Linked DNA regions of Homo sapiens: regions 1, 2 and 4 are each reported to be linked to region 3. The links are microRNA targets in miRTarBase. Many come from high-throughput screens and were not tested one by one. Region 3 holds a microRNA gene; each other region holds the end of a gene's coding sequence.

Region 1 (7,118 bases), not on the chromosome of region 3:
GTTGACTTAGGATTTTCCCCAAGGTGTAATAGAGCAAGAAGGATAAGGGACCTCCCACCACAGCTGTCAGTGAATTTTTTTTTTTTTTTTTTTTTTGAGACAGGGTCACTCTGTTGCCCAGGCTGGAGTGTAGTGGTGTGATCATAGCTTACTGTATGTAGCCTTGAACTCCTGGGCTCAAGCAGTCCTCCTGCCTCAGCCTCCCAAGTAGCTGGGACCACAGGCATATGCACTGTGCCCGGCTAATTTATTTTTTTTTAGTAGAGATGGGGTCTCGCCATGTTGCCCAGGCTGGTCTCAAACTCCTGGGCTCAAGTGATTCTCTCACCTTGGCCTCCTAAAATTCTGGGATTACAGCCATGAACCACTGCGCCCCACCTCCAGTGAATTATTCAAGTGTTTGGTTCTTCCTCCTGTGCCTAGCAGGTGGAGGGAAAACAGAACTTTGGTTCTAAGTCTCCTGAGAAGAACTGAGCCTTGTATAGCAATTCTTCAGCTGCTCCGTTCTTCTCTAACGTTTAGTTGGAAAAATGAGGCCCTGATTCCCATGAGAACCAACCAGCCAATCTCCTGACATGAGGTTGTACCTGTAGAACCCTGTTCCCTTAAGGAGACCAGAAAGCATTCCTGTCCCTTCCTCCCCCTTTTCCTGCCCCATGGCTAGAGGTGCTAATTGTAGTCTCTTTCTCTTCCCGTAGAATCATGATGAAACCTGGAGGAATTACTTTTCAGACATTGACTTCTTCCCCAATGCTGTTTACACCCACTGCTACGACTCGTCTGGAACGAAACTCTTTGTGGCAGGAGGTCCCCTCCCTTCAGGGCTCCATGGAAACTATGCTGGGCTCTGGAGTTAATGACAACTCCCCAAATGCAGAGATTTACACTAACTTCCATTCTCAGTTTCCTTGTTTCTTTTGATTTTTTTTTTCCTAATTGTGTGAGGCTCTTGTGTTTTAGTGGGAACACCAAAGTTTGCCTATAGTTTAGGCACTTAATAGGAAGAAGCTCTGTACAGAAATCTGAAAGTTGTTTTGCTTTTTGTTTTCCCCTTTGGTAATCAAAATTTTACTATCTTTTATTATTTCTGGCTTTTCAACCAAACATTGTTGCTAATCCCTATTTTTCTTTAAGTGACACACATTCTCCTGTCTCTGGCTTCTTCAGGCTGAAATGACATAGCTCACCCTTACTTCACTCTTGAGAGGTAGGGCTCCTTTATAATTACATGGTTGCTCTCAGACTTTCTGTGAAAGTTTGGGAGCTGTGTGTGTCTGTGTGTGTGTGAGAGAGAGATCTTGTCTGCGTGTGTGTGTGTGATCTTGTGTGCCTGTAGGTACTGTGTGTCACTGAAATTACCTGGAGTGAGGATTACTTGTAATTAAAATATTTATAAAAGAAACAACTTTATTCACAGAGTCCAGCTTTGGGACTAGTCTGTATCTTGTTTTTTAAGTCTAACAACACTGATAATAGGAAGTAAAAACAGAAAGGAAAAGAAATTACCACTGGGAAAATCTTTTTAGTTAGATTGTAGGCTTCCTGGGGCCTCCCATGCCAGGACTGCAAAGTGATCCAGCCCTACCTGTCTTCCCACCTGTGTGTCCCCCGTGTGGGAAGTTGGTGTCACTTCCCCTTCCCACCCTCACATCTGCTTAGCCAGTAGCCACACCCCTAAAACATCAGACTCACCATCCAGGTGCAGCTCCAGAGGCTACAAAAGGCTTCATGGGACTTGAATCCCCATCCTAGCTTCTCTCTCCTTCCCCTCAAGACCTGATCTGGTTTTAAGGGGCCTGGAGCTGGGAGTCTCAAGTCTGCTAAGATTCACATCCATAGCCCCCATGGCTTTGAGGAGAATCCTCTCTGCCATTCTTCCAATCTCCCCAGTGGGTTTTGCTATTATTTTCTAAATTGGGTTAAGTCTAAGAAGGTGGGGGTGAGCAGGGGGTTTATCTGTGTGTAGTGAGTGCTTCATGTGTGGAATATTCATTTTCTTACTGCAGTGGGACTTGGGGTTGAAGCCACCCCTCCTACTCTGTTGGCTTAGCCCTGAGATGGTGACAGGCTGGCCTGCAGTCAGCATCATTGTGCATGTGACAGCATCAATGTGATTAGTAATTTGTCTGTTCCTCCCTTGAACTGTCTGTTTAGTCTGAGGTTTTTAAACTTGCAGGCAGCTGACTGTGATGTCCACTTGTTCCCTGATTTTTACACATCATGTCAAAGATAACAGCTGTTCCCACCCACCAGTTCCTCTAAGCACATACTCTGCTTTTCTGTCAACATCCCATTTTGGGGAAAGGAAAAGTCATATTTATTCCTGCACCCCAGTTTTTTAACTTGTTCTCCCAGTTGTCCCCCTCTTCTCTGGGTGTAAGAAGGGAAATTGGAAAAAAAATTATATATATATTCTCCTTTTAATGGTGGGGGGCTACTGGAGAGGAGAGACAGCAAGTCCACCCTAACTTGTTACACAGCACATACCACAGGTTCTGGAATTCTCATCTTCGAACCTAGAGAAATAGGTGCTATAAACAGGGAATTAAGCAAAATGCTGGATGCTATAGATCTTTTAATTGTCTTAATTTTTTTTCTATTATTAAACTACAGGCTGTAGATTTCTTAGTTCTCACAGAACTTCTATCATTTTAAACTGACTTGTATATTTAAAAAAAAAATCTTCAGTAGGATGTTTTGTACTATTGCTAGACCCTCTTCTGTAATGGGTAATGCGTTTGATTGTTTGAGATTTTCTGTTTTTAAAAATGTAGCACTTGACTTTTTGCCAAGGAAAAAAATAAAAATTATTCCAGTGCACAATGGTGTGAGTGAGTATTGTGTAGCCAGGAGCCTGCCAAAAAGGCCCCACATGACTAGTTGGAAGGTTGGCTTGAGCTGTTGGGATTGCTTGTGGCAGAAGGGGAACACAAGCCATTACCTCCAGGTTAGAGGCAGGTCAAGTGCAGGCACAAATACTAAGACCTGCTTGCTCTGGGTCCCCAACTCTAGCCCAAGATGAGTTGCTCTGAGGTCCAGCTGAGGGTGGATATGCCCAGGGTACTGAAGTAGTGTGACGTTACTTCTGTTACATAAGTAAGGGTTGGTAATAGGCCCTGTCTGCTTGGATGGTGCCCTGAGAATGACGCTGAAAGTGCTTGCATAGTACTCTGGGAATAGGATATTAATTTTTGTTTTTTGTAGTTGGAACCATAGACCTTCACTGCCCTTTGTAAGGGGAAGACACAGTGACCACAGTGAGTGATGCTCTTCTAGAGCCTATTTGGAGCTGTAGCTGAGAGAAACTGCCAAATCATACCACCCTTCCTCACACAGTCATCTCTGGGAAACCCACCAGGGCTAGGCCGCAGAGCCTGGCAAGGCCGTCCCTATTCTTCTGCCACATGGTACTTGTTCTTTCCAGGGCAAGCTGGACACAGCTGCTCTATGCACCTGCCTTAGAGACTGACTGGTTCAGAACATGACACATGGGTTCCTATATGATCAAAGGCTGCAAGACAGGAAGGGGAGATGAGTAAGTTAAAGCAATTTGAGAGGGCTCCCCAGAGGAGACGAGTTACATTTGGAAAGGGCTGAAACTAGCCTTTCCCAAAATGAATTTAGAAGGTATTTGTAAAATCTTCATTGTCAGCCGGGTGCAGTGGCTCACACCTGTAATCCCAGCACTTTGGGAGGCCCAGGTGGGTGGATCACCTGAGGTCAGGAGTTTGAGACCAGCCCAGCCAACATGGTGAAACCCCATCTCTACCAAAAATACAAAAATTAGCTGGGCGTGTTGGCGGGTGCCTGTAATCCCAGCTATTGGGAGGCTGAGGCAGGAGAATTGCTTGTACCTGGGAGGCAGAGGTTGCAGTGAGCCGAGATTGTGCCACTACACTCCAGCCTGGGCAACAGAGTGAGACTCCATCTCCAAACAAAATATATTGTCAAATCATTTTTGGGAAATGCAGATTAGAACAAAAGCAGCTTCATTCCTTTACCATCAGGTTTTTTTATTTTTAAAAATTGGAAAGGAGAGCTTTATTTCTCAAAGGGTTGCAGTCTGCAGGGTGGCCATTCTGACAGTCTGGGAAGTACAGCCTCTGGCCAGAAGTCAGAAACACAAACTGAGGGAGGGGCAAAGGGGACAGGAATTTATGTTGAACAAGGTGGCTGAATATATGTATTTAATAAGCTATAGGAGGAGTCATGAATATTTATAAAAGGAAAAAGGTACACATGTGCAACTGAACTCTTAGGTTTTTGGTATTTTACTATGGGACTTGTTCCATAGAACATGCTCACAAAGAAAGGTGACTTAGGGAATGTGGGGTTGACTTGGTCTAGGCCTCTGGCCTCCATGGAATCTTGGCCTTGCTCCCACTTTCCAGCCAGACTTTCCAGCAAAGCATGTATCACAGAAGGGCTTTGTGGGCTTTATGGGGTCCCTTTTTAGCCAGCAGTCCCTACTCCCTTCTGTGAAAGAACTTCTTGTTCTCTCTCAGGCACTTCTTGTTCTGTCTCAGGCCGCATGCCACATGCCTTATTCCAAATAGTCTGCTGGCTCCTCATCCTTTGGGTCCTTCTACAGGAGGCTTTGTAGCTGAACTGAATTCTTAGCCCTTCATGACTTGTTTATGCTCCAAGTCCCTGGTCCCCTGCCAACTCTAATTGATTATTGATCTGGCCCTGTGTTCCTAATAAAACTAAAGACTGCCCGCAGTCCAGGCCACTCTGATCCAGCTGCCATTCCTCGTGCAGATACCCAGAAATAGCAAGTCAGGATGTCCATACCTGTATCAGCACCAGGGATCAATCTTTTAGGAGTTAGCCTACGATCCAAGTGTTTTTGTTCTGCTTTTCAGTTGCTGGTATCTAGAAGACAACAATGAGGAGTGGGGGGTGGACAGGAGAAGGAATCACTCAGTGTTATTTGCTTCATGCTAGTTCATTCATATCTTTCTTCACGCTAGTGTGCTGAGATAACTGAAATGTTTGGGAGGATGGAAACATAGGCTGCTAATTCTGAAACCAGTGATGAAGACAATAAATTGCTCAGGTTTCTTAGCTTGGTTCTGCCCTTAGCTCCTCCAAAGAAGAATCCAATGAAAGAAATGTGAGACATAGGAATACTACCACTGGAGAGAAAGGTGTGAACTGAACTCAAGATGGAGATGGAGTTGTGAGCTCTTTTATGATTCCACTCTCCAAGAGAGGTGTGGACTATCCTCTATCAGAATCCCCCTGGGTTGGGCCTCACATCTGAACACTCTTCTTGATTAGTGTGGAACTGCCGAAGTCAGGATTTTTAAGGCATAATAATACTATTTAACAGTACTCAGGCCGTGTGCAGTGGCTCACACCTATAATCCTGGCACTTTAGGAAGCCGAGGCAGGCAGATCACGAGGTCAGAAGATCGAGACCATCCTGGCCAACATGGTGAAACCCTGTCTCTACTAAAAATACAAAAAATTAGCTGGGTGTGGTGGCTCGTGCCTGTAATCCCAGCTACTCTGGAGGCTGAGGCAGGAGAATCGCTTGAACCCAGGAGTTAGAGGTTGCAGTGAGTCGAGATCACGCCACTGCACTTCAGCCTGGCAACAGAGAGAGACTCCGTCTCGAAAAAAAAAAGTGCTCATAGTCACATGTTTACTATGCTTCTTGTTAAGCTGTAAGGTGTATTCAGAGCTATAATTAACATTGCTAGCGCTATGGACAGGAAGAAAACAGATGATCAACTCATACCTTAAAATAAACTGAGCTGGGTGCAGTGGCTTACACCTGTAATCCCAACACTTTGGGAGGCTGGGGTGGATTGCCTGAAGCCAGGAATTTGAGACCAATCTGGCCAACATAGTGAGACCCCATTTCTACACATAATTAATTAGCCTTGCATGGTGATGCCCACCTATAGTCCCAGGTACTTGGGAGGCAGAGACAGGAAGATCACGTGAGCCCAGGAGTTTAAGGCTGCAGCGCGCCAGGATTGTGCCACTGCACTCCAGCCTGGGCAACAGAGCAGGACCCTGTCTCAAAAAAAAAAAAAAAAAGAAAGAAACTGGCCAGGCGCAGTGGCTCATGCCTGTAATCCCAGCACTTTGGGAGGCCAAGGCAGAAAGATTGCATGATACTAGGAGCTCAAGATCAGCCTGGGCAATATAGCAAGACCTGGTCTCTACACAAAATTGAAAACTTAGCCAGGCATGATGGTGCACAGGAAGACTGTTTGAGCCCAGGAGTTTGAGGCTGCTGTGAACTATGATTGCGCCACTGCACTCCAACCTGGGTGACAGAGCAAGACCCTGTCTCAAAAAATAATAATAGGCTAGGCGTGGCTGCTCACACCTGTAATCCCAGCACTTTGGGAGGCCGAGGTGGGCAGATCATCTGAGGTCAGGAGTTTGAGACCAGCCTGGCCAACATGGCGAAACCCCACCTCTACCAAAAAATACAAAAATTAGCCGGGCGTGGTGGTGTGCTCCTATAATCTCAGCTACTCAGGAAGCTGAGGCAAGAGAATCGCTTGAACCCAGGAGGCAGAGGTTGCAGAAAGCCGAGACCACACCATTGCACTCCAGCCTGGGCAACAGAGTGAGACTCCGTCTCAAAAAAAAAATTCTCCCCTTGGGCCTCGAGAAAGAGCATTGCATGAGATTGGCGTCTTGTTTTCAGAGTTCTGGACTCCAAAACTATGAGAGAATGACTCTGTTGTTTTAAAACCCACCAAGTTAGGCTGGGCACAGTGGCTCATGCCTCTAATCCCAGCACTCTGGGAGGCTGAGGCGGGTGGATCGCCTGAGCTCAGGAGTTCGAGACCAGCCTGACCAATATGGTGAAACCCCGTCTCTACTAAAAATACAAAAAATTGGCCGGGCGTAGTGGCATGCACCTATAGTCCCAACTACTCGGGAGGCTGAGGCAGGAGAATTGCTTGAACCTGAGAGATGGAGGTTGCAGTGAGCTGAGATCGTGCCACTGCACTCCAGCCTAGGCGACAGAGCAAGGCTCCGTCTCAAAAAAAACAACAAAAAACAACCCACCAAGTTTGTGGTAATTTAGAAGTATTCTGAGGAATTTTTAGATACCAATTTTTGTAAAATCACACTAGATCAAAGGA
Region 2 (7,118 bases), not on the chromosome of region 3:
TTCCCCGGCGGATTCGTGGACACGCAGGACAGAAGCCTAGAGGACGGGCTGAACCGCGAGCTGCGCGAGGAGCTGGGCGAAGCGGCTGCCGCTTTCCGCGTGGAGCGCACTGACTACCGCAGCTCCCACGTCGGGTCAGGGCCACGCGTTGTGGCCCACTTCTATGCCAAGCGTCTGACGCTCGAGGAGCTGTTGGCTGTGGAGGCCGGCGCAACACGCGCCAAGGACCACGGGCTGGAGGTGGGACCAGCCTGGGACTCTGTCCCTTTCCCAATTTCCTCTTCTCCCAAAGCTTTCTCTCCCCCAAGAAAGCATCCCTGGAGAAAAGTCTTTGCCCCTCTGACCTTGCCCTCTCCCCAGCTTTCTTGGTGGAGTTGGGATCGTGATCATCTATACTCTGAATTAGTACTGCCAACCTGGGCTTTCTGTAAAGGTCTTTCCCACCCTTTACCAGGAGAGATCCTTTCTAGAACACACTCATCCATGTCTCTCTGCTGTTCCCTATTGACAGTGTGATAGATTATCACATTATCTAGGTGTGGCAACCTAGGTTTTATTCTTGGGGTTTGCTTTTCTTGTGTAGGAGATGTGGCCCTGATATTTCAGGCAGGGCTAGTAGATAGATTATGTATGAAGGTGGTTCTCAAAATTTGGCAGGTAGCAGAATCATCGGGGCGTCTTATTAAAATAGCGATTTCTCTCAGCATTCCTGCATTGGTGGTGGGGCGGGGGGAGAGGAAACCTGAGAATTTGTAGTTTTCAAAAGTTCCCAAATAATGCTGATGCAAATAATCTGAGGACCACATTTTGACAACCACTGGTGAAAGGGTATGAATACATCTTTGAGGCAGTAGCCACTAGAGGTTTAGAAGCAGATGTGGGAAAGATTAATTGATAGAGCTAGATAATATGTTTTGGGTCATTTTCCTGCAGAAGGTTGGGCCACTAGGCTTTAGTGAGGTGTGAGCCTTGGGCCTGGTTCTGCTGGAGTATTAAGGGGTGAGGCCTGATCTGCTGGAGAAAGGATGGAGTTAAGGGAATGAGCCACCTGGGGCCCTAGTGTCTCCTGTCTCCTTCCTTTTACAGGTGCTGGGCCTGGTGCGAGTGCCCCTGTATACCCTGCGGGATGGTGTAGGAGGCCTGCCTACCTTCCTGGAGAATTCCTTTATTGGCTCTGCGCGGGAGCAGTTACTTGAAGCTCTCCAGGACTTGGGACTGCTGCAGTCTGGCTCTATTTCAGGCCTTAAGATTCCAGCTCATCACTAGAGGCAGCCCTCCATGGACCCATGAAAACTGAGATGAGGACCTTGGTACTAGGGAGGGAGGGAAGGACGTGGGAATGTTTTCTTATTGGATCTGAGAGATGATACATGATACCAGATGAAAAGAAGGAGAAGTGTGTACCATATGTTTTGAGCAGAGGACCCTCCAACTTATGGCATCAGGGGCAAAAAGTCACAGCTTATCCCAGGCACCCTGGCAGGTTCTCAGAGCCTGCCTCCTCCCTGTTTATATGCGTACAGCCTGGTAACCCCCAGGCATGCAAATATACAATCTGTAACAACACACAGCCTGACACCTTCCCCTGGTCATGTCCAGTTTAACCTTGAAGTGGCATTTGTCACACTACCCTGGTCCCTGATTGCAAGGAGCTTCTGAAGCAAGGGTGAATCCTTCCCACACTCCTCCATGGTTGCCCTCCAGGGTCTAGCCCAGCCTATTTGTTAGGGAGGATAGAGAAACAGAGCACCCCCTGTGCTTTCTGAAAATAGACTTGCTCTTGTCTTGAGTGGTGACCAAAGCAGTTGGCTCTTAAAAGGTGGGAGAGCAGCCCAACCAATCCCCAATCCTTTTCTTCTGAAACTGAGCAGGAAGGGTAAGGAAGTGGCTAGGTCTCCTTGGACTGAGCATGGACATGAGTCCTGTGAGGACTGGTGTCTCTCCTCTAGAGCTTTCATCTTTGGGATGCCTGAGACTCCGAGACTATCAGAAGGGAATTGACCCACCCCAGTCTAGCACCACCCTGCCTTCACTTCATCTACATAAAGGTGGTATAAAAACATAGACTGGAGGAGGTAATCCATGGAGAGAGAAAAAGAAGAGGGCTCAGGACAAGGCCCTGAGGAGGCCCAATCCTAAAAGTTTGGGCAGAGGGAACCAGGCACGTTAAAGAAGACAGAAAGCGGACTATGCAGAGTGCTTGTGAGGGTTTCACTAAAACAGAGGCAAAACTGTCCATTGAATTCAGTAACATGAAGTGTTTGATGACTATGATGGCAGCAGTTTCAGGAAGGGCGGTATGGAAGGCAGGCTGTACTGGTTGAGTGAATGGAAAGTTGGGGAGTAGAACGTGTGAGAAGTTGGCCTTCAAGGGGCTCAGGTTAATAATAGAGAGCTATGGAGTCAAGGCATGTTTAAGATGGGAGGTAGAGCATGCCAATATTGATGGCAACAGTCAAGATGGTGTGATGAGAGAGATGGGAGGGGCACAAAGAGGAGGACCCCTGAAGGAGCAGAGTCCATGAGAAAGAAGGAGGGATGGGACCTTTGTAGGAAGAGACACAGTCCTGCAGCCTCATATGGCTCAATAAAACAGAAAGGGGCAAGTATAGAAGATTAGGATGACTAAATTAATGGGGAAATGATGAAGGAGTTTGAATCTCTTCTTTGTGAAATGAAGTGAGACTATCAGCTAGTTGTGGGTGGAGTGTGTTCTCAGAAGGTATGAAGTAGATGTTTTCCTAGGTGTTGGAAAACAGGTTGATTAAGGCAACAGCAGAAGGGCAGGGCAAGGCTGAGCTCTGAGATGGTCAGTTTAGAGTAGGATGCTGGGCACTCAGGTGTGTGTGTGTTGAGTGGGGCTCTGCACACACCTGTCTTCCCCTCATCAGGATTCAGGAGCTGGGATGGGTACACTTACTGCAGTGTTGGGGTTTTGCCAGGGAAGTAAAAGGAGTTGAGAGAAAGATGGGTCAGTTCAGAAGACATACACAGGAGAAATTGTAGTGATGAAATGTGCAGTCTAAGGTTTAATCTGACCAAGAAATTGGAATTGAAAACAGGAGGTGACTAGGGAGGGATTAGGAAATTAGAGGTCTTGACAAGATAGAAACTCCAGCATGGTGAGGGGTTGGGCAGGGAGGTATATTTGAGCCAGACAGGAGTGCTTTGGAAATTGAGAGGTGGAGCAATCTCAGGTAAAGGCAAAATAGAGGGTATGACCTGGGGTTGCTGGCCAGAGCCAGGGAGGAGCCTTAAGAAGTGAAATCTAGGGTTGGCGAGGCTGGAGGGCAGGGTGAGCCTCCACATGGGTGCTGAAGCAAGAAACCGACAGATGTTGAGGAGAATGGTGTGACCTAGGAGTCAGCATCCTTGGTGAACAAGAGGAGTGGCCACAAGGCCAGTGGCACCTGCCAGAGGGGAAAGCAGGCATGACAGGATAGCATCTCCCAGGTGAGAGCCTTTTGAGGAAGGGAGGGTGGGCAGTGGTCTGGAAGCTTGATGCAGAGCAGTGTGGGTCCCACTGGCAGCCCTTGGTCTTAGAAGAATGGGAGTACCCAGTGGGGGAGCAGCTGTACAATGAGGTAGACTCCTAGAGGTTAATTATCATCTCCTAATCTTACCCTGACCCTTTTGTCAAACGTTATCTAGATTAAACCTCAGTATAGGCAGGCTGCAGGAAATGGACATTCCAGTGGCCCCTGGGGTTCCAGCCTGTAGCAGCTTCATCTGTGCTTTGTGCACTTGGTTCTCAGTCATCTCTGCAAGGGACCCTGACGCCTGGGAGATCAGAGCCACTGACCCTTTATGGCACTGCTAACAGACCCCTTCCCTCAGGTAATTCTGGATCCAGAACTCATTATGGGATGTAATCCAGGTCAACACTAATACCACTTGGAAGGTTCCGCTCTGTCTCACTCTGCTTGAGTATCCCACTGATCAGTCTCTCAGTGCCTGCCTACTGGGCAGCTCATCTGTCCACTTATTCGTATTAAATTTGCTTTTTATTTAGGTCTCTGGAGATGGTTGCGTGGGGAAGAGCCCATGACTTTCCTATATGATCCCTTGAACATACTCTCCAAGTCAGTAGATTACCTCTCAGGCAGCCTTCATAAAAGTGTTTCACTGTACTGGGGTTTGTGTTCATCTCACTCACATAGACAGTCTCTGGGTAGGCAGGTGGGGGGTGATACAAGTTCACACTCTGTGTTTCTCCTCCTGTTAGCCATTCCCACCCTGCTGATGTTTAAGGAAAGCCAGGGATGATGACCCACTTAAGCTTTCCTTGGCCTTGTTAAGTCCAATCATCTGGGGCAGGAAGAAGAGAAATGCTCATTGCAATCTTTGACCCCCACTAACTGCTGTGGTGACTTTGACCCAAGCCCTTGACCTCCTTTTCCTTATCTGAAATGTTGCTGTGATTCCTGTGGTGAGATCAGATGAGGCAGCACTTGGGATAAGCTTGCAGAGATGCATTGAGCGGTATGAAAGTACAGGATGCTATGTACTTTCCTGCTTCACAGCACATTTTGTTTCTTGCAAGGTGAGTGGCCCAGCCGCCTCTCCACAAACACGTGTTTCTGCCTTTCTCAGCATAATCAGCAAGATGTTCCCACTTCTCAGCATTGCACTTTTCTGCTGGTGCAGAATAAAAACACTTTGAGCCCCACCCTGTCCTGAGACAAAGTCCTCTGTGGTCACTTGGCATATGGCAAAGCTGCTGCTGTGGGCTGGAACATTTGAGGCAACAGTGACTTCCTCCTTTCCTAGTTACCGGAACCCTTAGAGCTGGGAGCCGGCCAGTGAAACAGACAAGGGGAGGGGAAGAGAAGAGGGAAGGCATGTTTCCTATATGAGTTTCAGTTTGTTGCACAGAAATGTTTTTGAAACCTTTATCTCCAATAGAATCACAAACGGGTGTCAGAGAGTCAAAACTAGAGGAAAAAGTTTAGTCTGTAAACAAATCATTAGATGGCATCAGAATTTGAACCAAAGTAAAAGATGCTGGACCTTGGCACTTATCAGAGAAGTATAGAAGAGCCAGGTAGGGGATTTTATTTACAACATGTTCAATTCTGAGGAAGAGGAGTATGGGCAGGGCAGAGGAAAAAGGAAAAATGGGAAACCCCCATGGACTTAGGGCCCCCACAAAGAGAAACCATGTGCCTTCTCCCCACTTCCCTTCTGGCTTGGGCAAATGAGGCTCCCTTTAGGGGTAGAGGTACTCTACAGGGGCTATGTTCCCTTTAGGGGTAGAGGTAGTCTACAGGGGCCAGCTGGGCAGAGATGAAATCTTGCAAAGGAACCCTTCTTACACTCGAAAAGCAAGAATAGCAAAGGGACTTTGGGAAGGACATAAAACAAGAAAAGGAAGCTCCTCACCAACAGCTCCCAGATGGAGGGAGTTTGTGTGTCTAGCATTTTCACCAAAGTGCTGCTCATCCTGATGCACAGATGCAGATTGGAGCTGCTGCCTGTGCCCTCACCATGGGTATGTACCCACCACAGGCATTCCCAGGTGATGCGGGGGCAGAGGATTCCCTCTTTCCACTCAGGATAACAACCCCTCGATGGGGTTTTCAACAAGTATAGAAAGCTCCTGGACTCAGCCAAGACCCTCACCTACAGTCCCAGTCCTCCCACCTTCTTCAGGTCTCTAGAAGACAGAACTGATGGGTTTACAACATCCTATTATCCAGCACTAGTCCTAGGTTGTGGATGTAGGGAAAGGCCAGGTAAACAAGGAAGGGAGAACAGGTGAATGACCCCAATTGTTTGAAACCAAAAGAGCAGAATTGCCCCTAATTGATTTAAGTAAACAGCAAGTAACATAGGTCTGTTAAATAGAAGAGGATGTGAGCACCAGATGCACGTGATAAAGACCATGCTCTGGAAGATTCATTCCAAGGAGTAGAAGTGGTATTTACTCAGGGCATTTAAGGAGAGCAGGGACTCTGAAATGAGGTGAGAGAAAAGATAAGACATGCAGGAACAGCTGGCAACACCAAGAAAGAATTTAAGGAGAGGGATCTCTCTGTTAGAGAACTTAACATTACCCTAGGAACAGCAAGAGCATCATCAGCCCCAGGAAAATCTACCTCTGATATGGAGACCAGGCTTAAGAAAATCCCCTAGAACCCAGAGAAAAAGTGCAAAACAAGGAAAATGGCCAAAGAGAATATCATAGATACAGAGATCAGACAATGAGAATCCAGAGTCTTGTTAAGTGATAGAAGGAAAATACTAACAGAACACATGTAACAGGAACAACATTTTAGAGGAAACAGGACAAAAACTTCCCTAAACTCAAGATACTACACCAGAAGTGGGCAGTACTCACTATGTTCAGGGGAACAAAAAGATAAAAACTAAAAAGCATCAGACTGTTTTTTGTGTGAAGGAAATTTGTAAGGTAGGAGAATTAGGTCACTTACTACAGCACAAATTGCATGTCTATCTAAATTGACGTTTAAGTGCAAAAGCATGGATATTACTCATGCAGTTTTACTGGAAAACCATACAGATGTTTTTCAGGAATGTACAGAATGAATCAAAGGAAATAACTGATCGACAGGAAAACTGTAGGAAATTTGTGGGCTGGCTGTGAGGCAGTGGCTCCTATTATGTACAATTTTAGTGCTAAGTACTGTGTTAATGATGGCTATCAAACAATATGTTAACATCTGAAAGGAAATATGTATATTGAGCATAATAAATATTTTATAAATAACAATAAATCATTTGATTTTATGCTAGTTCCCAGGTTCTCACTTATTTTAGTAAAAGTGAGTAGTGAGGAGGGAGAAAGAAGCATAAAAATGTGATTCTGCTGAGGAAATTAGCAGGATTTGATTTCTGAAAACGGTAAGACTCGTGAAATTTTACTATTTCAAAGTACATACCAAAACAATATGATTCTGGCTGAATATGAAAAGATGAGAAAGAATGCCAGGGAATTACAGTAAAAAAGTAAGAGATCATCATAATATTAATATCAAAGGCACTAGAATTCTTTAATTGATCAAGAGATTATCCACAATAATCACATAATCACCAACAATTTCAGATTATATACAGCAAAGTCTATTAGAAATTAAGAAAATAGTATTAATTAAGAG
Region 3 (7,118 bases):
GGCGCCTGCCCTGCCCACCCCCCAGGTCCGCCCCATTCCTCTTGGTAGCTCAGAAATTGCTCTCTTGTGAACCTTATGGATTCAGGTCCCTGGAAAGCCTAGCCCAGAGACCTTTTCCCCAAAGGGCACATAACGGGCCTTTTCCTCTGCCATGCTCACGTAATATTTGTGGAGGCTTCAATCTTGCTTCTCCATGTCCTCAATTAACATCTATTTTCTGTCTAAAACCTCTGGCATAGGTACCACATAAGGATCGCACACAGGGAAACAGAGCAGTCCTCTAGACCATTGTCTGGCTCTGTCCGTGTCCACACACACACTTGAAAATTGCCTTGTTGCCACTCTGGGGACCCTAGCATGGTGAGGTCTAGCCAACTCCACCTGGCTCCTCACCTCCAGATCCATCCCAAACAGCCTGCAACACCCTCAGCTTCATGACCCCCCTATCTTGTTCTGACCACTCAGGATCCCTCCTCCTGGGCGTCCTGTCTACCTCTTCAGAAGCTAATTCTACTTTCTCTTGCTGATAGGCACCTCTTCAGCAGTAGTGGAGCCTTAGGGCCTGAGAGGCAAGGGACTTCTACCTTTGGTTTAGGGAACCTAAGTTAAACCCCATTGGTTCTCCAGCCTGGGCATAGGCCACCTTACCTAACTTAATCCCCTTTCCTCAGCCATTTTTGAAGATTGGAAGACCCTGGAGGTTGGGAGAACGGGACTTTCATTACAAAAAGCACTCTGTGCGTTATAAGTGGGGCCTCGTCTTTTCCCAATTTTAAATAGAATTTAAAAGGCTAGCTCAGGGGTTGCCCCAACAACCAGCTTCTCCTTCACAGTGTAGGAAATCCAGCCACCGGAAAGCAAGCTGGCGCTCCAGGATGCAATTCCCCCACATAGGCACCAGGTGTCGCTGTGGGCTTGTTGTCCCGGCTACCCCCAATTCCAAGAACCTTTTTTTTTTTTTCCCTCCCCCTTCCCTCTTTCTCTCTCTCACTCCCTCTCCCCCTTGGTTGGGCTTTGCCAACATATCGAGATGCTTTTCGCCGGCTTCCATCACTAACCTCCCGGAGGTCATCAAGCCAAATTTATGAGTGGCCGCTCGAGTCACGTGACTCTATTTAAGGCTCCCTTATTTGGGAAGAGCGCATAGGATAAAGAAAGAGATATCTCCACCTATAAATTGTCCACTTTGGAGAACAAAAAACCCCTCAACTTCAAAGAGTCACAAATCACCCTTAATCAAAAAGGGTGCAGAAATTTTTTTGGGCCCTCCCCGCCATGAGCTCCTACGTAGCCAATTCATTCTATAAGCAGAGCCCCAATATCCCTGCCTATAACATGCAAACTTGTGGGAACTATGGATCGGCCTCAGAGGTGCAGGCATCCAGGTACTGCTACGGCGGATTGGACTTAAGCATCACTTTCCCACCGCCTGCGCCTTCCAACTCTCTCCACGGGGTAGACATGGCTGCCAACCCCCGGGCTCACCCCGACCGCCCCGCCTGCAGCGCCGCGGCCGCTCCGGGACACGCTCCGGGCAGAGACGAAGCGGCTCCTCTGAACCCCGGGATGTACAGTCAGAAGGCGGCTCGCCCGGCGCTGGAGGAGCGAGCTAAGAGCAGTGGGGAGATCAAAGAGGAGCAGGCGCAGACAGGGCAGCCCGCCGGACTGAGCCAGCCACCGGCCCCGCCACAGATTTACCCGTGGATGACCAAACTGCACATGAGCCACGGTAAACTTTAGGACTTCATTTTGCGCTCTCGGGTCCGCCTGGGTTTTATAGGCCATGCGGGGCAAATAAAGAAAAAAAACCTGCGGCCATAAATTTTACGATCCAGGCATCAATGGCTCGTAAAACTGTCCACTAAAAGGCTTAGAGGCTGTGTGCGCCCAAATTTACGACGACATAATTGGATCATAGGAACAAAACGTGTATAAAAGGCAATATTCAATTTTTGGGGGAGAGGGAGGGAGTTAAAAAAATAGAGGGATCTGAAGGGTGAGGAGCGCGGGGCTCCAGAGCGGGGATCCCCCCGCGGCTCCCTCCCTCCCTCCCCTGCGGAGCCGGCTCCGCCGGCGCTTGCGGCTCCGGAGGATTCCAGCGACTCGGGAGGGGCGGGAGGGGGGTCCCCGGTGCTCGGATCTCGAGGGTGCTTATTGTTCGGTCCGAGCCTGGGTCTCCCTCTTCCCCCCAACCCCCCCTCAGCCCCTCCGGCTGCAGAGTGAAGGCTGCGGTGGAAAGTTTCCTGCCTGGGCGGAGGCGCCTCTCCCGGGGCTGGGCTGGGCTGGCCCGCCTGCGGCCCGCGTGGCCTGTCTTGCGGCTCTCGCCTCCTCTCCCTCCGGCCGCGGGTGGGGGCCTGGGCTGGGGTGGGGACGGGGGAACGCTGCAAGCTATTCACCCCTTCCTGGCTTGGGGTGGGGTTTATGTTCCAGAGACGGACGGCAAGCGGTCCCGAACCAGTTACACGCGCTACCAGACTCTGGAACTCGAGAAAGAATTCCACTTTAACCGCTACCTCACTCGCCGCAGGCGCATAGAGATCGCCAACAACTTGTGTCTCAATGAGAGACAGATCAAGATCTGGTTCCAGAACCGCAGGATGAAGTGGAAGAAAGATTCCAAAATGAAAAGCAAAGAGGCTCTTTAGAGGCAGCGGGGGAGGCCCGCAGAGCGCGCCCCTAGCCGGTTCCTGTCCCTGCGCCTTTCCTTTTCGCCTTTCCTCTCTATATTTCGGGTCGGGGGCAGGTGCTGGAGCACTGGGCTCCCGGGCCCCACAGACAAAAGCGCTTTTCCTTGGCATTCCGCATCCCTACCGACCCAGGGTTCCCGCGGGGCTGTCGGCGCTGCCCCATCTCCCCTCAGCTCGGCTCAGCTCGGTACCCGGGGCCCAGGGCAAGCTCCGCAGGACTTCCCCGGAGGGCTGCGGCGTACAGGCTGGCGCAGAACGAACCTTGGCCTGGGCCGTATCTCCGGCTCCCAGCCTCAGCGCGGCCCTCCCGAGTTAAGGTGGGCCCGGCCCGCGCCACAGGACCCTCGCCGGACCCTCTAACCTCGCCCTCTCCTTTGTTCCCGGCTGGACGGGTTAGACAGCCAAAGGCTGGCGAGAGTCTGGCCCTAGACTCGGGGTGCTTCCTTGTAGCGACTAAACTAGATTTTCACTTATGAATGATTTGCATATGAAAGGAGAGCATCGGCCTAGGGCCCCCACAGTTGCTCTATGCTTTCCAAACCTTATCTCCACAACCTCTTCCCCCCAAAACCCGGGAACCTCCCCAGCCTGCGCCTGCTGCATGCCCTCTCAGGCCGGCAGCCCCAGCCTGCTAGCTAGCTCAACTAGTGGGGTTTCCTGGCACTGGACCCCAGCAAGTGGTCCTAGAGGCCCTTTGCTGTCCCATAGTCCCTGCCACGAATTTCTGTGCCCTCCTGACCCATTGCTGTTGTCCAACTATTTATTGACTCTGGGTCCTTCCTGAAACTATATTTTGTCATATCAAATAAAGAGAGAACAGGACTAAAGATGCAGTGGCTCCTGTCTGTTTGGGGCATGTATTGGGTAAAATTGTCTAAATGGGCTGTGAGATGTAGAAGGAGACCCACAAACTTTAAGCCACCCCTTTAAAAAATTTTCTAGCTTCTAGGGGCAGTGAGTAGAGGGAGGTGAAATTGAGCTCCTTTCCTGTTCCTTGGCTGCAACAAGAGCCTCTGGGGGAAGAGAAGGGCACCTAGGCCTCGAGTACTGGCTTTTCCCATGCTGTGGCTGTCCAAGGCCTTCACGCCTCTGCACTCCAGGAGGCCTCTGGACTGGCAGCAGCCCCCACTGTGTGCCAAAGCTGCGGTGCAGGAACCAGTGGCTCCACCGTGCTCAGCCTTAGGACCTTCTGGGCCTCTGAAGATCTTTCCTGGGCCTAGGTGGTCCCTGAGAGGCCTTGCTGGACATAGAGGGAGGGCTGAGCCCTCACTCTAGGGACCCATTTGGTCTCATAAGGGCCTCTAGAGGGAGGTGGTATTGCTTGGTAAGGGGGTGTTGGGAGAGTTGGAGGAGGTGTGCCTCAGTATCTAAGATACTGGGGAAGAGGGAGCAGGGAGGACAATCTGCAGTGTGTATCAGCCTGGCAGGAAATGTTCAGACTGTTTCCACCACCTTCTAGGGCCTCGGGCTATGCAGGACAATTAACTGGGAAAGGAGCTGCATAGACCAGTGCTGGAGTCACGTCTGTCTGCCATCATTTATCTCAGTCTCTGGGATTTTGTGTGGAGGGGAGGATGGGTTAAAAGTGGGGGTGGGAGGAGGCAGATAATTCAGGTAGTGTCTGAGGATCAGGTCCTTCTCCAGGCTCCTGGGATGGGCTGGGGGAGGAAGCACTTTACAGTAGAAACAAATGTGGGAAGGGTCCATAAAACTTTACTGCATTTCCTCTCCCACCTCCCACAACAGGGTGATTTCCTGGAGCCAAGCCTAGGCCCCCCACACTGGTGGGGTGAGGGTCTGGAGCTTGGCTAAGGGATTGCACCAGCAGCCAAGAAGAAAGGGGAGCAGAGGGGCTCTGGGGAGGGGCAGGGGAATATTTATGATTATTAATGCTGATGCTCCTTGGATTTATTATAAGGACTAACTTCGCTGCATCCCACTGCCTAAGCTACCCATCAGTCATTTTTTAAAAGACCCAAGAGCCTTTCCTCACCCCATGCTTGGCACATAGGCAGTCTCAACAAATGCTTATTGAACAGTGCCCACAACTACCACCCTTCCCCTTCGCACTGCACTCAGGCCAGGTTAGGGCGCCTGTTGTCTCTCCTCAACTTGCACACAGCAGTTAACCCAGACCAGTGCTCTCTCTCTCTCTCTCTGAAATAAAATGTGTAATTTTCTTCAGGGAGTTATTTTAATTTTTTCTCCATGCTGAGTAAAACTATTGAGTGAGCAGTGAAGCGTGGAGAAGCACTGGCGTCTCCGGTGGGTAACAGTTAACTAAGAAAGAGGCTGTGGCACCCGCACCCACCTGTTCCAGCCTCCCAGGCTGCCCAGGCCCTGTGCTTCCTCCCCAGGGGACAGGCGCACCACCCCAGGGGAAAACCAAGGGCTTTGTCATAGATAGGGGCAATGTTGGTTAGAGCTGCCAGGCAGGGCACACCAGCCCCACCGTGCACTGACTGCCTCCTCCCGGCAGGGTTTGGGCCTCTCCTTCCCTGGAGGAGCTGAAGGTCTGACTCATTTTGGCTTGGGTAGACACAGAGTGCCTGCCTGCCCTCCTCCTTCCTGTCACAATCTGCAGGTCTGCCCAGGCACCAGCCTTGGCTTCTGCAGCATCGTCGGGAGTCAGCGGCGGCAACCAAGCCAGAGGCCTCGTACCTACTTCCCTACGCTGAGGGTGCATAAGGCCCAGATCCCTGATTTCTCCCTGAACAGGGGCTTCTGCTTTGGGGCCTGGGGTAGTTTCCCCACCAGCCAGCCTCCTAGAACATATTTCCAGGTAACAGGGTCTGGCATTGCTCTGGGGGAGTTTATGGAGGGGTCTTCTGGGTTGCAAGCAGAGACTATGGAGCCTGCCTCTCCACTTTGCCCTGGAACCCACCCCCTCTGGCAGCAAGAAAGAAGGGGAAGAAGCATGACTTACCTTCCCGGGGGAGTGGGAAGAGGGGGGACACGGCCCACTCTGAGCAATTAGAGGAAAGAGGAGGAAAAAATAAGAGGACAAAAAGATCAACACGACCTCGAAGGCGACAGGTCCTTATGGAAATAAGTAAGTAAATAAATAAATAAGGATCCACCCTCTCCCCCCTCTCCACCCTGCAAGGGGGATGTGGGGGTGGGGCAAAGGAACAGCACCAGGGCTTTTTAGTGTAACTGAGCATTAGAGAAATAGGCATGCTTCTATGTGAATTTAGGAGTTTGAAACTTTTGGAGGTTATTTATGTGAATAGCCTGAAGGCAAGCCCGTGAGTGGCTCTTGGGGGACCACGTGATATCATTAAACCAAGTTTTATGGTGTAGGGAGAGCTGACAAACCCACAATATATTTACATCATATATAATCTTAACTGTCCAGCCACGCAGCTGCTGGTGAGGTTTAATGCTAGGACAGAGGGCCTGGCAGTTAGAGGGGATTACGGCGCTGGGGACGATGGTGAGAGAGGTTACATCTTCGCAAATGAATCCCAGGCGAACGCTGTGAGTTAATTCTCTCTTTCTCTCTCTCAGACCCTTTCTCCCATTTACCTAACCACCCCCCTCACTTGATAGAAGGCAGCTCCCACTTATTAGGGGGAGGGGGAAAAGGCCTTCCCAGGCTGGGGTGGGAGAAGAGAAGAAGCAGCAGAAAAAGCTGCTGGGAAGTAGGAAGATGGGGGAGCTTGTCTACCCTGAGCAGCCCTCCCCTTCCCACTCCTTATTCTCTCTGACTGCAAGTCAACTGGGGTAGAGAGGCCTTGGTTGTTTAGAGATTTGCCAGGTCTTCCTGACCCTTTCAGTTGAGAAGAAAGCAAGCGGCAGCAACAAGGGTGTTTGGTGTCTGTACGGGTATGTAAACTCTAGACACAAGCTCAAAATGCCTCTGGGGCCCACTGTTCCAGGGAGGGGTGAGTTCAGCCCTTGGCCAGTGGCCCAAGGTGGGAAACTGGGGAGAAAGGCAGGGAAGGAGGGTTTTGTGGCTTCTACGCCCACAGGCTACTGCTGCCTGAACTGGCAAAAGTATCTCAAAGGTGGCTGTTTGAACCCAGAGGTCCCAGAGTGCCCCCTCCCTCCCTCACTACCAGGCTTGGATGGGCAGCTGTCTCAGCCTCCGTAGTTTGGCATCTTAGTCCGTCTGAAGCCAGTGTGGTTTCATGCTTCCTCCTCTCCTTCTAGCTGCTTGGGTCTTCCTGGCATTCCCAGCCCTTGCCTGAGATAAAACTAGGCTCTAAGAGCCCTAGAGGTTCCTGCTGTGAGTGGAGTGTAATTGTGTGTTGAATGGGTGAGGGAGCAGAGGCAATGTCTTTGCTAGGCTGGGAAAGTAAGTCCCCCAACCTTAAGGACAGAGTAGCCCCTCGGGGATGGAGCTAGCAGGGCCCAATATGAGCACTGCACCCTGGGGTCAATCCTCAGGCTAGGGCGCCCTTCAGGTTTCTAGGAAGGAGCAGCAGA
Region 4 (7,118 bases), not on the chromosome of region 3:
GAGGCAGGAGAACCACTTGAGCCCGGAAGGCAGAGGTTGCAGTGAGCCAACAACATGTCACTGCACTCCAGCCTGGGTGACAGAGTGAGACTCTGTCTCAAAAAAAGGAAAAGAAAATGAAAATTTCACAAGTTTGTGCTGTTGTCAAGAATTTTAGAAGCATGTAGGATTCTCAAAGGTGGATGGTTAAAGTTTTCTGTGGAAACATTATATTTGCGCTTTTAATGAATTGGGACTCATTTGGAAATGAAAGTCTGATAAAGAAAGATACATTATCAGCCAGCCTGATGGCTCATGCCTGTAATCCCAGCACTTTGGGAGGCTGAGGTGGGAGGATTGCTTGAGGCCAGGAGTTCGAGACAAGCCTGGGCAACATAGTGAGACCTGTCTCCATAAAAATATTTTTCAAATGACCCAGGCGTGGTGGCGTGTGCCAATAGTCCTAGCTACTATGGAGGCTGAAGTGGAAGGATCACTTGAGCCCAGGAGTTCAGGGCTGTGGTGACCCATGATTGTGCCACTGCACCGTAGCCTAGGTAGCAGAGCAAGACCCGGTCTCTAAAAGAAAGAGAGAGAGAAGGGGAGGGAGAAAGGGAAGGAAGGAAGGAACCCACATTCTTTATAACTCTTTGTGCGTTCTTTCTACAAATCTATCTGACCATGCTGAATTGAGAATGAGGAAGGAGAACATGGCCTCCCATCTTCTTTAAAGTTTTCAGTTTAACATGTTTGATTACACAATCATAGAAAAAAGCAACACGTGACTGGGAGATTGGGAGGCCGAGGCAGGAGAATCGCTTGAGCCCGGGAGGCGGAGGTTGCAGTGAGCCGAGAACACTGCACTGTGGATGGCAAACCCACACCCTGTCTCAAAAAAGTTAAATTAAATTAAATAAATAGAAAAACATTACAAATGAAAATTACTTAAAATCCTGTCACTTGCAGATAGCCACTATTAAAATGTTGTTATATATTCTAGACTTTTTATGTGTATCTGATCGTATATTTTTTTTAAATGGCACATGCTATTTTACAACTTTTTAAAATGAATTTAACAACTTTCTGAACAAAAATATATAATGCATATCTTTTTAATATTGTGTGTATATATGTAAAGATATGTATTGCATACATTTTAACCTTTTTGTTGTTCGTCATTGTTTAGGAAAAAAAGACAAGGATTCTAAGTGAGCTATACTAAAAAGAATAACTATGATAGTTTTATTTAGCACATCAGTGAATATATTCTCTATAGCACAAGAAATTACTTGCTTGCTCATTGATTTCTTTTTCTTCCCTGCTGTATTTGCAGAAGATGAACAAGTTTCTGCTGTTTGAGGCACAGACTTTTCTGGAAGCAGAGCGAGCCACCTGAAAGGAGAGCACAAGAAGACGTCCTGAGCATTGGAGCCTTGGAACTCACATTCTGAGGACGGTGGACCAGTTTGCCTCCTTCCCTGCCTTAAAAGCAGCATGGGGCTTCTTCTCCCCTTCTTCCTTTCCCCTTTGCATGTGAAATACTGTGAAGAAATTGCCCTGGCACTTTTCAGACTTTGTTGCTTGAAATGCACAGTGCAGCAATCTTCGAGCTCCCACTGTTGCTGCCTGCCACATCACACAGTATCATTCCAAATTCCAAGATCATCACAACAAGATGATTCACTCTGGCTGCACTTCTCAATGCCTGGAAGGATTTTTTTTAATCTTCCTTTTAGATTTCAATCCAGTCCTAGCACTTGATCTCATTGGGATAATGAGAAAAGCTAGCCATTGAACTACTTGGGGCCTTTAACCCACCAAGGAAGACAAAGAAAAACAATGAAATCCTTTGAGTACAGTGCTTGTCCACTTGTTTACAATGTCCTCCTTTTAAAAAAAAAAAATGAGTTTAAAGATTTTGTTCAGAGAGTAAATATATATCCATTTAATGATTACAGTATTATTTTAAACCTTAAGTAGGGTTGCCAGCCTGGTTTCTGAAAAACCAAATATGCCGGACAGGGTGTGGCCACACCAAGAAGACGGGAAGACCTGGCTTGTGACCCTGGCTTCCCATGTCCTTCTGGTCTCACCCGCGAAGTGCCCTATCCTGGAAGTATGAAATGTTAGCCAATTAATACCAAGACACCTCATCTGCTCCTTCCCCAGTGGATGGGGTTCTTCTGTAAAACTGTTTGCACATGGCCAGGGGAGGGAACTAGGACCCTTGTGTCCTGTCTGAGCCTTATGGAGGCAGGACGGTGTCATTGGCGGATGTGTCCTGCTCCATTGAGATGGATGGCAAACCCCATTTTTAAGTTATATTTCTTTGATTTTTGTTAATTTAGAGGTGTAGGTTTTGTTTTTTGTTTTTTTGTTTTTTTTTAAGAGAAACATTTATAACTGGATAGCATTGCAGTGAAAGCAGCTTGGGATGTTGGAGCTAATGCCAGCTGTTTATACTGCTCTTTCAAGACAGCCTCCCTTTATTGAATTGGCATTAGGGAATAAACAAGCCTTTAAACGTGATAAAAGATCAAAAACCTGGTTAGACATGCCAGCCTTTGCAAGGCAGGTTAGTCACCAAAGACTAACCTCCAAGTGGCTTTATGGACGCTGCATATAGAGAAGGCCTAAGTGTAGCAACCATCTGCTCACAGCTGCTATTAACCCTATAATGACTGAAATGACCCCTCCACTCTATTTTTGTGTTGTTTTGCACAGACTCCGGAAAAGTGAAGGCTGCCAATCTGAGTAGTACTCAAATGTGAGGAACTGCTGGTCTTGGATTTTTTTTCCATTAAATTCAGCTGATCATATTGATCAGTAGATAAACGTAAATAGCTTCAAATTTTAAAAGTGGAATTGCAGTGTTTTTTCACTGTATCAAACAATGTCAGTGCTTTATTTAATAATTCTCTTCTGTATCATGGCATTTGTCTACTTGCTTATTACATTGTCAATTATGCATTTGTAATTTTACATGTAATATGCATTATTTGCCAGTTTTATTATATAGGCTATGGACCTCATGTGCATATAGAAAGACAGAAATCTAGCTCTACCACAAGTTGCACAAATGTTATCTAAGCATTAAGTAATTGTAGAACATAGGACTGCTAATCTCAGTTCGCTCTGTGATGTCAAGTGCAGAATGTACAATTAACTGGTGATTTCCTCATACTTTTGATACTACTTGTACCTGTATGTCTTTTAGAAAGACATTGGTGGAGTCTGTATCCCTTTTGTATTTTTAATACAATAATTGTACATATTGGTTATATTTTTGTTGAAGATGGTAGAAATGTACTATGTTTATGCTTCTACATCCAGTTTGTACAAGCTGGAAAATAAATAAATATAACATAAAGCCTTGCCTATATTCTTAATGAATCATGCATGCTTTTTATTATTAAATTGGAATAGAAGCCTTTCGTCTCCTGCAGAAGCAAGTCCTTCGGCTGGAGAGATTTAGCCTCATGGTTATTGGAAACTGCCCAATAGCCTATTTATTTTAGGCAGATCTCTGTTGATCCAAAGCAATTAATATCATTAACGTTAGCACCAGCCAAACCATGTTCAGAATTCAGTGTTTCTTGAAAATGAAGATGCTGTCACAATATATTTGCATAACATTTGTCTCTTCTCAACCGTTTCCAACAATAATCTTTATGGTACGTAATATTTTGGTTCCCAGTATACATACTGAGAGACAGGACCTCAGAGAAACTGACATTCAAGGTCATGATTATTAAGTGGAGAGTACAATTTAGCTAGTGATTCTGGACTTCTAACTAGTACACAATATGAGTGCTGATGTGTGGTAAGTCTGAATAATACTTTAGTCTATCAGAAGGGCACTTAATTTTAAAAGGTAAAAACCAGTAAGTAGCAGCCTGCTTACGCACATGTTTAAATGAGTGACTCATTTCTTTTCCTCAAGCAAGCATAACTAAAAGTATTAGCCATCAGCCACTGAGAAGTCTCAGAAGTCAGAGTGGAAGCAACTGGAAGCAGAGGCACCAAACACTGGAACATGTGAGGGAGCCTGAAGAGGAGCGGGAGGAAGGTCCCTCCAGAAGCTAACAGGAAAATGGCCAGGGCTAGGCTTCAAGATCTTTCCAAGGTATTCGTGCCAGCTATTTTGCTGAGAAATTTTGAAAACCTGGACACCAAAATAGTCGGGAAAATTATTTATTTATTTATTTATTTATTTATTTTTTAACCATTCTAGTAGCTTCAACCACACCTTTTAAAAAATGAAGAACCTGCGTGTTTGTGTATGTTGTTACATGCTCATCTCTGTTGTCTTTTCACTTTAAAACCCATTCCTCAGGGACTTTCCTAGACTGTCACTCAGCTTAATTTTCTCAAACTTTTTTTGAAAAAATACTAAGAATCTGATGTTTTGGAGAATAACCTCTTTATCATTACTGTGTGTGTTCTGCTAAAAATATGAGACAGTGACAAATAGGGCATGGTTCGTTTTCCTTTTAGGTTTTATTAGACTTTTATGTTTTAGGATACTTCCTCCGTGTAGCACAAGACTGGTCTCCACTTAAGGGTTTCCAGAAATAAGTATTTGCCAAGTGTAACAGTTTGCAGGGACAGAGTTTATGTTATGTTAATAATAGAACTTTGCCAAGTTTTAGGGATATTGTAGAAGGTTTTGGTGAAGGTCTGATGCTCTCCACCCTAATCAAAGAGGCCACACAGACCGGGGTCTGTGTTTTCATACATACAGGTTGAAGTCCTCAGAATGTTTTTCTCAGCCTCAATCCATTTCTCTGCTTTTGGGAGGTATAGATTTTATGCTCATCTATGATTTAATATGTTTTACCTTTAGTTCACTGATAATATCCCAAAATGAATAATGCAAGCTTCTGAGGATGCATGTATCAACACACCTTTTGGTCTCTGCCTCTCAACGCCAGTGCACTACATTCATGCCAAAGAAAAATAGGAAACTCTCTTGAGCGCTTTATCCCATGATACCAGCATTCTTTAAAAAAAAAAAAAAAAAAGGCTTACCTAGAGAATAAACGTAATGCAGCAACTGAGGAGTCAAGTTGTTGATTGCAGAGGTAAATTATTTTGTGAAGATTCACTAAGGGTATAATATCAGCAGAGGTTGTTGAAAGGGGCAATAAGACGGAAATGTGTAAGGCAAACTGCAGCTGAGGCCAACATGACACTTTCAAGAAAGATTTTAAAGTGAGAATTTACCTATTTGAGAGTGAGACGAAAATACTGACTGGAACTGAAAAATAATTTATGAATTGCCTTTTTTTTTGAGACAGAGTCTCACTCTGTTATCCAGGCTGGAGTGCAGTGGCGCAATCTCAGCTCCACCTCCTGGGTTCAAGCGATTCTCCTGCCTCAGCCTCCTAAGTAGCTGGGACTACAGACGTGCACCACCACACCCGGCTAATTTTTGTGTTTTTAGTAGAGACGGGGTTTCACCATGTTGGCCAGGCTGGTCTTAAACTCCTGACCTCAAGTGATCCACCCGCCTTGGCCTCCCAAAGTGCTGAGATTACAAGCGTGAGCCACTGTGCCCGGCCTGAGTTGCATTTTTTAAAAGATTCACATTTTAGCCAAGTACAAGGCAAGCTAGTTGTTACTATGCCATAGCCATATACCAGAAAATTTTATAGAGGCAATCACGACATTCCATGCAAGGTTAAGAAATGCCAGAAAAGACTTTATTTCATGGGCAATCAAGATGGTAACAATTCTTATGGGAAAAATGTCTAAGCCTAGAATAAAATATCTGAAATAAATTGAGTCAAATGACCAGCTTTATAAAGACTGAAAGTGAAATCAACTTAATTCAGAGTGTTCAACACCTCAAAAATAGAAGTAAGTTTAATACAATTTAAGAAACTTTTGGCCAGGAACAGTGGGTCATACCTGTAATCTCAGCATTATGGGAGGCTGAGGCAAGAGGGATTGCTTGGTGCCAGGAATTCAAGAACCAGCCCAGGCAACAAAGCAAGACCCTATCTCTACAAAAAATAAAAAATACAGCCAGTTGTAAGGGTGTGCACCTGTAGTCCTAGCTTCTCAGGAGGCTAAAGTAGGAGGATCACTTAAGCCCAGGAGTTCAAGGCTGCAGTGATCTATGATGATGCCACTGCACTCCAGCCTGGGCAACAGGACAAGACTCTGTCTCAGAAAAGAAACATTTTAATAATATTGTATGACCTTGCCAAATGCACTGTGGTCAAATGGGGACCAATGAAGTAATAGTATCTCAACATACGTGAGGTTTTCTTTAATTTATATAGATTGAAACCTTTTTCCCCAAATAGGACTACAAAATTGGTTTTAGGATCAGGTGAGTGTCACATTTGGTATTAAGATGAAAATATGTATATGTACAATGCTTCTAGATACAGTTTAGTGAGCTAATTTACTGTGGTCCAAGCACTTTTCTAGATGCTAGATATTTACAGATTTTACTAAAGTGAACCGAGGCACCTTCGAGTTATACTTTCTTACTTTAGAGAAGTGTCTCAGGCCCTACATGGAAAAACCTACGGAGTGATCCCACCATCTTGATCACAGCTGGATTGAAGGAGGTGTCTGATCCAAGAGTTGCCAATGTGGGCTCACCAGCAGTCTGTAAGAGGGCCCTGGAATGAGTGCCGTGACCAGCCAGTAAGAAGGAAAGCAACAACTAACAACCTTAGCACATTCTCTTTGGGGAATTTCTATGAAAAGGCAAAAAAAAAGGACGCACCAAAGAAGTGAGTATTCAGAAGCCGTGACTAACAGAAGCAATGAGGATGCAGAAATCATGAGCAAGAAGGGGCCCATGAGGTCAAGAAAGCAATTCATCAAAGGCAGGAATCCTGTTAAAAACTTAAGACACTTCTTAGGGAACAATAAAATGATCTGTCATCATCACACCTGAATACAATGTCCAGTCTTAGAACAACTCCCTGAAGCTTGGCTCTGAAATGTTCTTGTTCTTCATGAGACCAGCATGGAGAGCTGTTTTTTGTGTATCCTCTCTGAATAACCATTCTGTTCTCAGCATCTAGAAACAGTGCCTGGGATAATGCCAAAGTGTTTAATAAATGAATATCATATCAAGCAACCTAAAGGACCTCAATTACACAGGTAAATTGGAG

The links. The annotated mature microRNA hsa-miR-615-3p reads UCCGAGCCUGGGUCUCCCUCUU and lies in region 3 at 2,163-2,184, shown strand. An mRNA with a match to its seed (bases 2 to 7 or 8) in the 3' UTR can be bound and repressed. Matches are read on the target gene's strand: a 7mer-m8 pairs with bases 2 to 8, a 7mer-A1 pairs with bases 2 to 7 and ends in A, and an 8mer does both.
Region 1: miRTarBase lists DCAF12 as a target of hsa-miR-615-3p. The part of its 3' UTR that is shown has no 7-base or 8-base seed match.
Region 2: miRTarBase lists NUDT16 as a target of hsa-miR-615-3p. The part of its 3' UTR that is shown has no 7-base or 8-base seed match.
Region 4: the mRNA of RAPGEF2 is a reported target of hsa-miR-615-3p. The part of its 3' UTR that is shown has no 7-base or 8-base seed match.

The regions. Positions count from the first base shown.
Region 1 is chr9:34,082,089-34,089,206 of GRCh38, reverse strand. DCAF12 (DDB1 and CUL4 associated factor 12) reads left to right here. Exons shown (of 9, transcript NM_015397.4): 9 at 699-2,820. The coding sequence ends at 857. Among named protein-coding and RNA genes, the nearest start is that of UBAP2, 37 kb to the right of the region's middle.
Region 2 is chr3:131,382,076-131,389,193 of GRCh38, forward strand. It overlaps NUDT16 (nudix hydrolase 16), which reads left to right. Exons shown (of 3, transcript NM_152395.3): 2 at 1-240; 3 at 1,087-6,755. The coding sequence ends at 1,266. Among named protein-coding and RNA genes, the nearest start is that of NUDT16, 3.9 kb to the left of the region's middle. RefSeq lists enhancers at 1-138, 139-707.
Region 3 is chr12:54,031,848-54,038,965 of GRCh38, forward strand. MIR615 (microRNA 615) reads left to right here and starts at 2,103; the gene lies at 2,103-2,198. HOXC5 (homeobox C5) reads left to right here and starts at 1,203. Exons shown (of 2, transcript NM_018953.4): 1 at 1,203-1,729; 2 at 2,431-3,514. The coding sequence starts at 1,276. The coding sequence ends at 2,645. It also overlaps a transcript of HOXC4 not described here. RefSeq lists enhancers at 718-1,012, 1,007-2,158 and a silencer at 2,242-2,301.
Region 4 is chr4:159,356,802-159,363,919 of GRCh38, forward strand. It overlaps RAPGEF2 (Rap guanine nucleotide exchange factor 2), which reads left to right. Exons shown (of 30, transcript NM_001394067.2): 30 at 1,313-3,372. The coding sequence ends at 1,338. Among named protein-coding and RNA genes, the nearest start is that of MIR3688-1, 230 kb to the left of the region's middle.